2 linked regions of the Homo sapiens genome follow. The protein of the gene in region 2 interacts with the protein of the main gene of each other region in a pairwise test. Each region holds a gene or a part of one and is shown on either strand. Other genes may lie near its edges. The genes, in order: CHRM5 and CBFB.

Region 1 (4,483 bases), on a different chromosome or scaffold from region 2:
ATTACTTTTACAATATAATACTTTTATATAATATGTGTGAATGAAATACATTCTAAATTGCAGAAACAAGTAGGCAGGTCATTGACTACATCCCAAGACTGTTCAGAATCTCTTTAATTGTTAAATCTATCAATAACAGGGAAAAGTTGTTATAAATAAACCAAATCTTCAGGTACTAGCATAAAATCCCTCATCCATTTGTACCCATGAGATGTAAACTTGAAGCAGTTTTCAATTTTTTTTTCACCCTACATGAAGAAAATACAGATTATTCCAAATTGCTGTAGGGTATTTTTTTGAAAGCTGTTACCAAAACTTCAGTAATCACTTTTCTGAATGGGTTATTATAGAGCAAAGCCTTGATTTGGAAAGGAAAGAAAGTGAAAATTCACTGGGATTGATGCTGACAAGGACCAAATTGGGGTGGAGCAAGGTAGTATTCATTTGCCCAGCCATTGTCATTAGAAGGTGAGTTATAGAAACAAAGCCCCCAAATTAGTGGGATATGAGTCTCTGTTTACATTACAATGAGTAAATAAAATCCAGAACACTTAAGGAATATTGTTATCTGCCCCCTTTAATTCCATTTATTGGAAGCAAATTGAGCATAGTAGAAATTTCATACTTTTGTCCAAGTTAATTAAAAAATCTTTAATTATAATTTAAAATATTGATTAATATTCTTCATTTAAAATATCTACATATTTTTGAATCATGTCTGTTTACAAACTGTAATACCATAATAAGGAGGGAACAGATGAAAAGAACCCTTAAGGGTTCAGCTGTTTCTCAGTGTAGGTAAACAACAACAATACCACCCTTAACTTTTAGTTATGTCTGGTATGCATAAGAAGTATTTTGAGATTTCTAAATAAACATTTTTTTCTCTGAAACAAATTGTTGTATTAGATAATCACTACTTGTATTAAATTGCTGCTTTCCTTTGGTACTGGAAAATGACAGGTAAGTTTCTGTAATGACTTCAGATGTAAAAGACTTATGATATTTAAGGTTATTTATAGACTGTCTTGAAAAGCCTGAAGGGATCATATAATTTACTCCCTTAACTAAAATTTGAAAAAAGGAAAGAATTCAGTGAAATGGAAGAGAATTTCTAATTTGACTACTTTTAGACAAGTATTGAATACTTACTTCTGATAACTTTATGTATATTACCACAAGATCTCCGTAGTTAGGTGTGATATGCTCTTGTTTCCCTGTCTCCTCTCTTCTAAGATAATATAAATATTATTTGTTGTAGGACTTCTTTATGATAAGGTGCTTTGGACCTAAGTTTTCCAATGAAACTCATGAAAACCAATGTGGTTGGGATTTCTGCTAAATGATAACGTTTTGTTGTTTTTACATAAGATTGTCACTCTAGAAGTCTCATTATGCAGTGATTTCTAGGGAATTTCTTAAAGGCACTGTATCTTTTAAAATCCTTTGATGGCTTCACTAGTGCTTTGCATTTTACAGTTTGGACCACTGACCTGAGTCAAAGCTTTTGAGGTTTTAAGGTACCAGACATCTTTCATCTTTTTATCCTCTTGTTGAATCAGAAAAATGTCTTCATTTAGTCTGTTATAAAAATGTCTAGTATCTTTAGGATAAATTAGCCCTATCCTACAAGAGTGTTATACCTCGATTTAGTAGAGATTATTTTTCTTTAGTATGAATGAAATGACATCACAGCTTTTTTTTCTTAGTAACAATAGAAATCAGTCATTGAGCTTTTGTTCCTTTATATGAATAAAAATATTTAAAATGCTTATTAATTTTTCTTTGTTTTATCAAGTACTCTGGGAAACTAAGTTCATTTGAATATTGTTGGTAAACATTATCTGTGAATGGCTCTTATGCACCATTCAGGGCTCTCTTCATGCATTTTTTTCAAGCTATTAAATAAAACAAAATTGGGATAAAAATAAAGACAAAGATGAGACAAATTCAATGAAAAATGAATGGGAGTTTTGGATGCTTTATTATCTAGTTCTGAGTGACTTGTTTATGCAGCATAAGTAAAAACAAGCGTTTACCTCAGCTTAAATCTGCAAAAGCTTAAGGAAGGGTTGCAAGAAATTCAAATCCACTATCTCATTCACAGCACGAGCAGATTTAATTTCAGTAGACAAGATATAAATTAAGGTTATAAAATTAAATCTTACCTGGCAGTGGTTTGTTTGAAGCTCAGTAATTTGAACTCTGGCTGGAAATAGTAAGCTTCGAGACCCAAAATGCCTTCTCTACTTTCCTTTCATGTTTTATTTTGCCAGTGTTTTATTTCTTGCAGTGTCTTTATATCTGTATTCCTGATAATCCTGTAGCATTAGTTAGGATAGTATGCGGTAGATGAAGACTCCATTTGGATAGGATTATAGAACCAGAAGGGTGAGTTTTGCCTTTATCTGGTAACAGCAGTTGATCTGATCACAAACAATCTGAGTGTTGAGAACTTATTAAAGATTCATTGAATGCTTCAGCAATGAGAAATCCTGGTTGTTCCTATATGCATTTGACCCCCTGGAAAAGTTCTGCTTGTTCGTATTTCAGAATTACACACGCTTCCAAATCAAGCTGCTTTAAAAAACATTATCTGGACTAGAAGCATGGATGTTCTTGCACTCTTGCTTTCCTTTCTCCATACGAACTTTTCAGTCCATCAGCTTCCTTTCTGTAGAAGATGAAGGCATTTCTTCTGTCCTCCTCATGCTTTTGTAACCCATGCTTCTGGTACCCTGTTTTTTGAATAGTGAGGTAAAAATCCAGAAGGAAGTACGGCTTTATCATGTCTCTGGACGGTGAGCGTACTTGGCATGAATGAAGAGCTGATAGGAGCTATTCAAACCAGACAGCAAACTGATGGGATGACGCTGCCATACATAAAAAACTCATTAATTACTTCCCCTGCTGGACAGCAGTATATCCTGAAAGGAAGAAAGAAAGGAGCAGATGATGATATTCGTTTTGATAGGTGTTCTCTGTTTGAACAGCTTGTCATTGAGAAGAGAATCCAGGAAAAGCTGCAGCTTCAGAGTGTGATCAGGTAGAATGGGCAAGAGTTATTTGACAGACAGTTAAGTGACGTATTTTGGGAGGAAAAAGAGGGCTTAGCATGGAGGTAGCTGGAATAAGGTTCCAAAATGCTTTTGAAAATGTTCATTTTTTCCTGTTAGTCTTTTTGGCTAGAAGCTTTTTTTTTTTTTTTTTTTTTTTTTTAAGCTTTGCTAGGCATTATTCACAGACATGTTGCTGAGTTATTTTCTCATATGGTTTTCCCTAAAGATGGAAAATAATTTTTAAAAGTCTTTGAGATAGAAAGAGTATACTGTGAGTTTTAAATATTTGTAGCAGAGAAAAGGCTGCCTTTTTTTTTTTTCCTAAATGTATGCCTGTTTTTATACATCTTTTGGGCATATGCGTTTTGTTGCTTTGGAGTAAAGCATTATAAGTCCTCATTTGATACAAACTTTTAACAGGGTCTTCATTAAAGCTTTTCCTTAAGTTAGATGAAATCCATATTAGCTGTATAAAAGAATAGATTTTTAAATGTCAATTTCATAATTTTTGCACTTCAGTTTTTAAATTTAAAATTCAAATTTTTAAAACTGCACTTCAGTTTAAAATTTAAATTTTAAATTTAAACGTTTTTTCCCTGCCTGAGTTCTTTATGAGTGTATCTAGACAATATAATGTTTTTAAATTTTAAAAAATTATTATGGAACATTTCAAACTTACACAAAACTCTGAAAAATAATACAAAAATAATACATGAACCTCCAGAAACTCATTACCAAGATTCAACAATTGTCAGATTCAATTCTTTGCTAAAATATTTTAAAGCAAATCTCATTTCACCTATTTGTACTTTAGTATGTATATTTTTAAAGTATGGACACTTTTTCACATGACCCTGTGCCATTATCACACCTAACACATTGGCTATAATCCTCTGGAGTCATATAATATCCAGTTCATTTTAAATTCCTTGTGTCTCAGAAACTATGTCTTTATGTAGGTTTTTTCTGAGTGAGAATCCAGACAAAGTATACACTTTAATTGTTAGCCAATAGAATTTTAAACACTGACAGATGAACATGTATGAGAAAGAAGTGAATTTTAGTTTTATAGTGGTCTTTGACACACATTTGTAATAGGAATATTTATGCAAGAGAACATATCTTTAGAATATTTTCTTGAACTTTTCCCACTTAACATTGCATGATACTGAAAAGGATTGTAATTTCATATGGTAATGATTGGTCATTATATACTGGTCACTTCTATAATAAATACCCCAAGTTTTAAGCCACTGATTATTAAGCCATTTCAATGATTGAATGTGACTTAGAGTTCAGTGGAGATCCAAAATGAGAGAAGTAAAAATCTATCAAATGGGGCCATTGTGTTTATGAGGATCGATGACTATAATATTATATATGTTTTTCATTAATGTCAAGGTTTCTTCCCAATGGATTTTAAT
Region 2 (4,257 bases):
GACGCCGAGCCTGTAGTCCCAGCTATTGGGAGGCTGAGGCAAGAGGATCGCTTGAGCCCAGAAGTTTGAGGCTGTAGTGCCTCATGATTGTGCCTGTGAACAGCCACTGCACCCCAGCCTAGGCCACACAGCAAGACCTCTCTCTTAAAAAAAAAAAACGAAACAAGACCAGACGCGGTGGCTCACACCTGTAATCCCAGCACTTTGGAAGGCCGAGGTGGGAGGATTACTTAAGGTCAGGAGTTCAAAACAAGCCTGGCCAAGATGGTGAAACCCCGTCTCTACTAAAAATACAAAAAAATTAGCCGGGCGTGGTGGTGTGTGCCTGTAATCCCAGCTACTCAGGAGGCTGAGGCAGGAGAATCGCTTTAACCCAGGAGGCGAAGGTTGCAGCGAGCCAAGATCATGCTGCTGTGCTTCCAGCCTGGGTAACAGAGCGAGACTCCGTCTCAAAACAAAAAAGCAAACAGTGAGAGTACAAGTACTTTGTAACTTATCTTTTATACTTGCATCCTTTACCTCCAGGAAATTCTATCGTCAGGTATACCACCTTCCCTTTGCAAAAGGTAACCCAGGCAAAGGATGACACGATCATCGCACCAGCTAATGAATTCTTTTATTATACCACTCAGTGCCAAAACCTAAAAGTATGTCTTATGCACTTCAATCATATAAATACTACAATTACTCAAGAAATTTGCAAGTGGGCTAAAAGCTTGAGACTCTCTTTCATAACATGCACTAATGACCAAATATTCAGGAGCTCCTGATAAATTTAACCAGTATCTTCTCACTATTACAACTCTAAAAAGCTTTCACTTAAAATATCAAAATATTCTTTAAAAATAAATTTGAGTTCAGTGATGTAAAGGGAGAATTTTATGACATATGAATTATATCTGAATAAAAATAAACTGGTTTTATAAAGGGGGTGGGAGAAGTAAATTTCCAATGTCTTCCTACTGTTAACCCAAATTCAAATCGCACCTAGCTTCAAGCCTCTAACAATGCAGTGAGTCCAAGTCACCGAGCAGAGAGTAACAGCATTCCATTAGACAGTGCTTCAACTTTTTAAAAAATAATCAGGCCAGACGCAGTGGCTCACGCCTGTAATCCCAGCACTCTGGGAGGTCGAGGAGGGCGGATCACTTGAGGTCAGGAGGCCAGCTTGGCCAACAAGGTGAAACCCCGTCTCTACTAAAAATGCAAAAATTAGCCGGGCGTGGTGGCAGGCACCTGTAATCCTAGCTACTCAGGAGGCTGAGGCAGGAAAATCGCTTGAACCCAGGAGGCGAAGGTTGCAGTGACCCGAGATCGAGCCACTGTACTCCAGCCTGGGCAACAGAGCAAGACTCTACCTCAAAAAAATAGTAATAATCAACCTCTTTTCTTGGTTTCTTCCTACCACTCCCTCCTCATCAGCACCTCCAACAAGGCAAACCAAAAAGATGAGAGGAACTAGGACCCTTGGATTTTTTTTTTCAACCCAAGGTCTGGTGAAGACGCACTAAATCTGCCTCCTAAAACAAGGACCTCGAGATCAACCGTGGGTTTTGCCCATCTGTGCAGTTTTTAGGAACAGCAGCCCTACTCAGGACATGGGGATAATGGTTTCTTTCTGATTCTCCTGAAGCTTAACATTCTAAGAAAATGACATTTTTAGGGCCTTTTCCCCCCCCTCCCCTCTCTATTAGAATAAATAACTGGAGGAAAGATTTCTACTCGGCGATCTGGTAGTGAGACCGCTTGACACAGAGAATTACCGACAGATCTACCTTCTAAGAAACAAACTATCGCCGACCTTGAATGAAGCTCCACTTCTTTTTCCGAATGGGGGTTTGCTTGCTACAAATACCCTGAACCCTTCTTCGGTGTCGCCGCCTAAACAATGCCCTTCGCTTGTTTAGTCTGGCTCGGGTTCGAGCTCCACTCGCGGTGCTCCGTTGGCCGACACGCGCCACCGCGGCGAGCCCCAGGAAAAGCGTCTCCCCGCGAGTACCGGCCCGCGGCATCTGGTTTCGCATTTTGAATCCCGAGTAGGAAGTGAGACGGCGCCCACTCAGTTCCGGGAGCCGCAGCAGCCGCGCCGCCGTCCGGAACCGGCCTGGGCCGCCGCGGCCCCGCGCAACAAGTGACCCGCGCGCGCCCCGGGCCAGCCGACTTACGATTTCCGAGCGGCCGTCGCGGCAGGCGTTCTGGAAGCGTGCCTGGCGTTCCTCGTGGGGCCGGTCCCTGAAGCCCGTGTACTTAATCTGCAAGGCAAGACGGCCCGAAATCAGGAGCCAAATCCGCGGCGCCGCCCGCGCGCCCGCCCTCCCAGCGCAGCGCCGATAAGGGCAAGCAGAGGCTGCGGGCGATGGCCGCCCCGGCGAGATTGCCCCTCCGCGGGCGCACCGACCGGGACTCCCGGGGACCGTGCCGCCCAAACTTTTCTCCGCCCGGGCCCACTCGGGGCGCGCTGCGGCCTCCTAGCCGCCCGCCCGCCTGCCTCACCTCACACTCGCGGCTCAGCTTCCTAAAAAACTCCTCGTTCTCGAACTTGCTTCTCTGGTCGGGCACGACGCGCGGCATCTTCCCGCCCTGAGGCCGCGCCGGCCGGCCGCGCTCGGGGCTTGCGCGGGCACCCGCTGGCTGGCTCCGCGCTGACCGACTGACCGCCCACCCGCGGCGCCCGGACGCCCGCTTCCCTTTGTTTCAGGCGCCCGCCCGCGTGGGCTCCCGTTCCGGGGAGTCTGAGGCGCCGCCGCCCGCTCGAGCCCAACCCACGCCGCCGCCGCCGCCGCCGCCGCCTCAGCCGTTGCCTGCCGCCCGCGCAGCCCCAGCGCTCACCGCCCCCGGCCGCCGCCGCCGCCGCCGCCGCCACTTCCTCTCACCGCCCACCCCGCCCCCGCCGGCCCCACCCCTCCTCCTCGCGCGCCCGCCCGCCTCCAACTCCGGCAAACAAGACGCACCATTCACAACTCCGCGGCCCACGCCGCGCATGCGCCACCCGCCCGCTGGCGGAGCGGCCTGGCTGTGGCGCCCCGGGGCTCCTTCCGCATCAGGGCCCTTTTCCCCCTGCTCGCCCGCGGCCACTCGGCGTGGAGCTGTCGTTGGGGGATCCGCCTGGCCTTTAGCAGACGGGAGTAGCCAGCGCAGGCCTTTTCTACCGCCCTTCCTCGGTCATCTGGAACTTCTGGGTTCCCCAGGTGCGCGGAGTAACCCCAGATTGTCACTTGAACGCGAGGAAACCTAAGTCCTTGGGGACTTTTCGTCCCTAAACCGACCGGCAGGGGTGTAGGCTCTGCACGTTGAAGACTGAGGTGGAAACGGACCAAAGAATCCAACCGAGTCATGGTGGAAAGGTCGTGGCTTTTGGAGTCAGATGGGTCTTAGATGGGATCCCACTCAGCTACACTACCTGCTGGCTGGGGCCTTAGATAAGAATTGGACCACTAAACCTCAGTTTCCTTATTTCCAAAATGCAGACACTCCTAGGTTTGCAGTGTTAGCGTGAGAACCTTTATGTGGGTCTAGCACACAGTGGGAGCCCAATAAATTTAAGTTTCTAAAGAAGAACAAGCTGAGTTAAGAATGTAACCGATTGCCAGTCCATATACTTACTCAATGTGCAATCAGCTGCAAAAAATAAGATCCATAAATTCTAGGGAAGTTGTTTAGCCCAAACTGGAGAAAGTCTGACATGGGATTTATGGCAGAGTTTGATTCAAAGTTAGTCCTGTGGCCGGGCACTGTAGCTCATACCCGTAATCCCAGCCCTCTTTTTTTTTTTTTTTTTTTTTTTTTTTTAAACAGAGCCTCGCTCTGTCGCCCAGGCTGGAGTGCAATGGCGCGATCTCGGCTCACTGCAACCTCCGCCTCCTGGGTTCAAGTGATTCTTCTGCCTCTGTCTCCCGAGTATTTGGAATTACAGGCACCCACCACCACGCCCAGCTAATTTTTTTGTATTTTTAGTAGAGACGGGGTTTCGCCATGTTGGTCAGGCTGGTCTCGAACTCCTGACCTCAGGTGATCTGCCCGCCTCGGCCTCCCAAAGTACTGGGATTACAGGCATGAGCCACTGCGCCTGGCCTAATCCCAGCACTTTGGGAGGCCGAGGCAGGCTGATCACCTGAGATCAGGAGCTCGAGGCCGGTCTGGTCAACATGGCAAAACCCCATCTCTACTAAAGTACAAAAATTAGCGGGGTGTGGTGGCACACGCCTGTAGTCTCAGCTACTCGGGAGGCTGAGGCAGGAGAATCGCTTGAACCTGGGA

Evidence for each region.
Region 1: the proteins of CBFB (region 2) and CHRM5 interact in a two-hybrid assay, tested with the Homo sapiens proteins (one large-scale study listed by BioGRID and IntAct).

Annotation. Positions count from the first base shown.
Region 1 is NC_000015.10:33,966,836-33,971,318, reverse strand, and holds the start of CHRM5 (muscarinic acetylcholine receptor M5), read right to left. Parts: upstream 2,823-4,483; 5' UTR 2,169-2,822; intron 1-2,168. UniProt on the Homo sapiens protein: The muscarinic acetylcholine receptor mediates various cellular responses, including inhibition of adenylate cyclase, breakdown of phosphoinositides and modulation of potassium channels through the action of G proteins.
Region 2 is NC_000016.10:67,027,722-67,031,978, reverse strand, and holds the start of CBFB (core-binding factor subunit beta), read right to left. Parts: upstream 2,831-4,257; 5' UTR 2,572-2,830; coding exon 2,494-2,571; intron 2,253-2,493; coding exon 2,166-2,252; intron 1-2,165. UniProt on the Homo sapiens protein: Forms the heterodimeric complex core-binding factor (CBF) with RUNX family proteins (RUNX1, RUNX2, and RUNX3).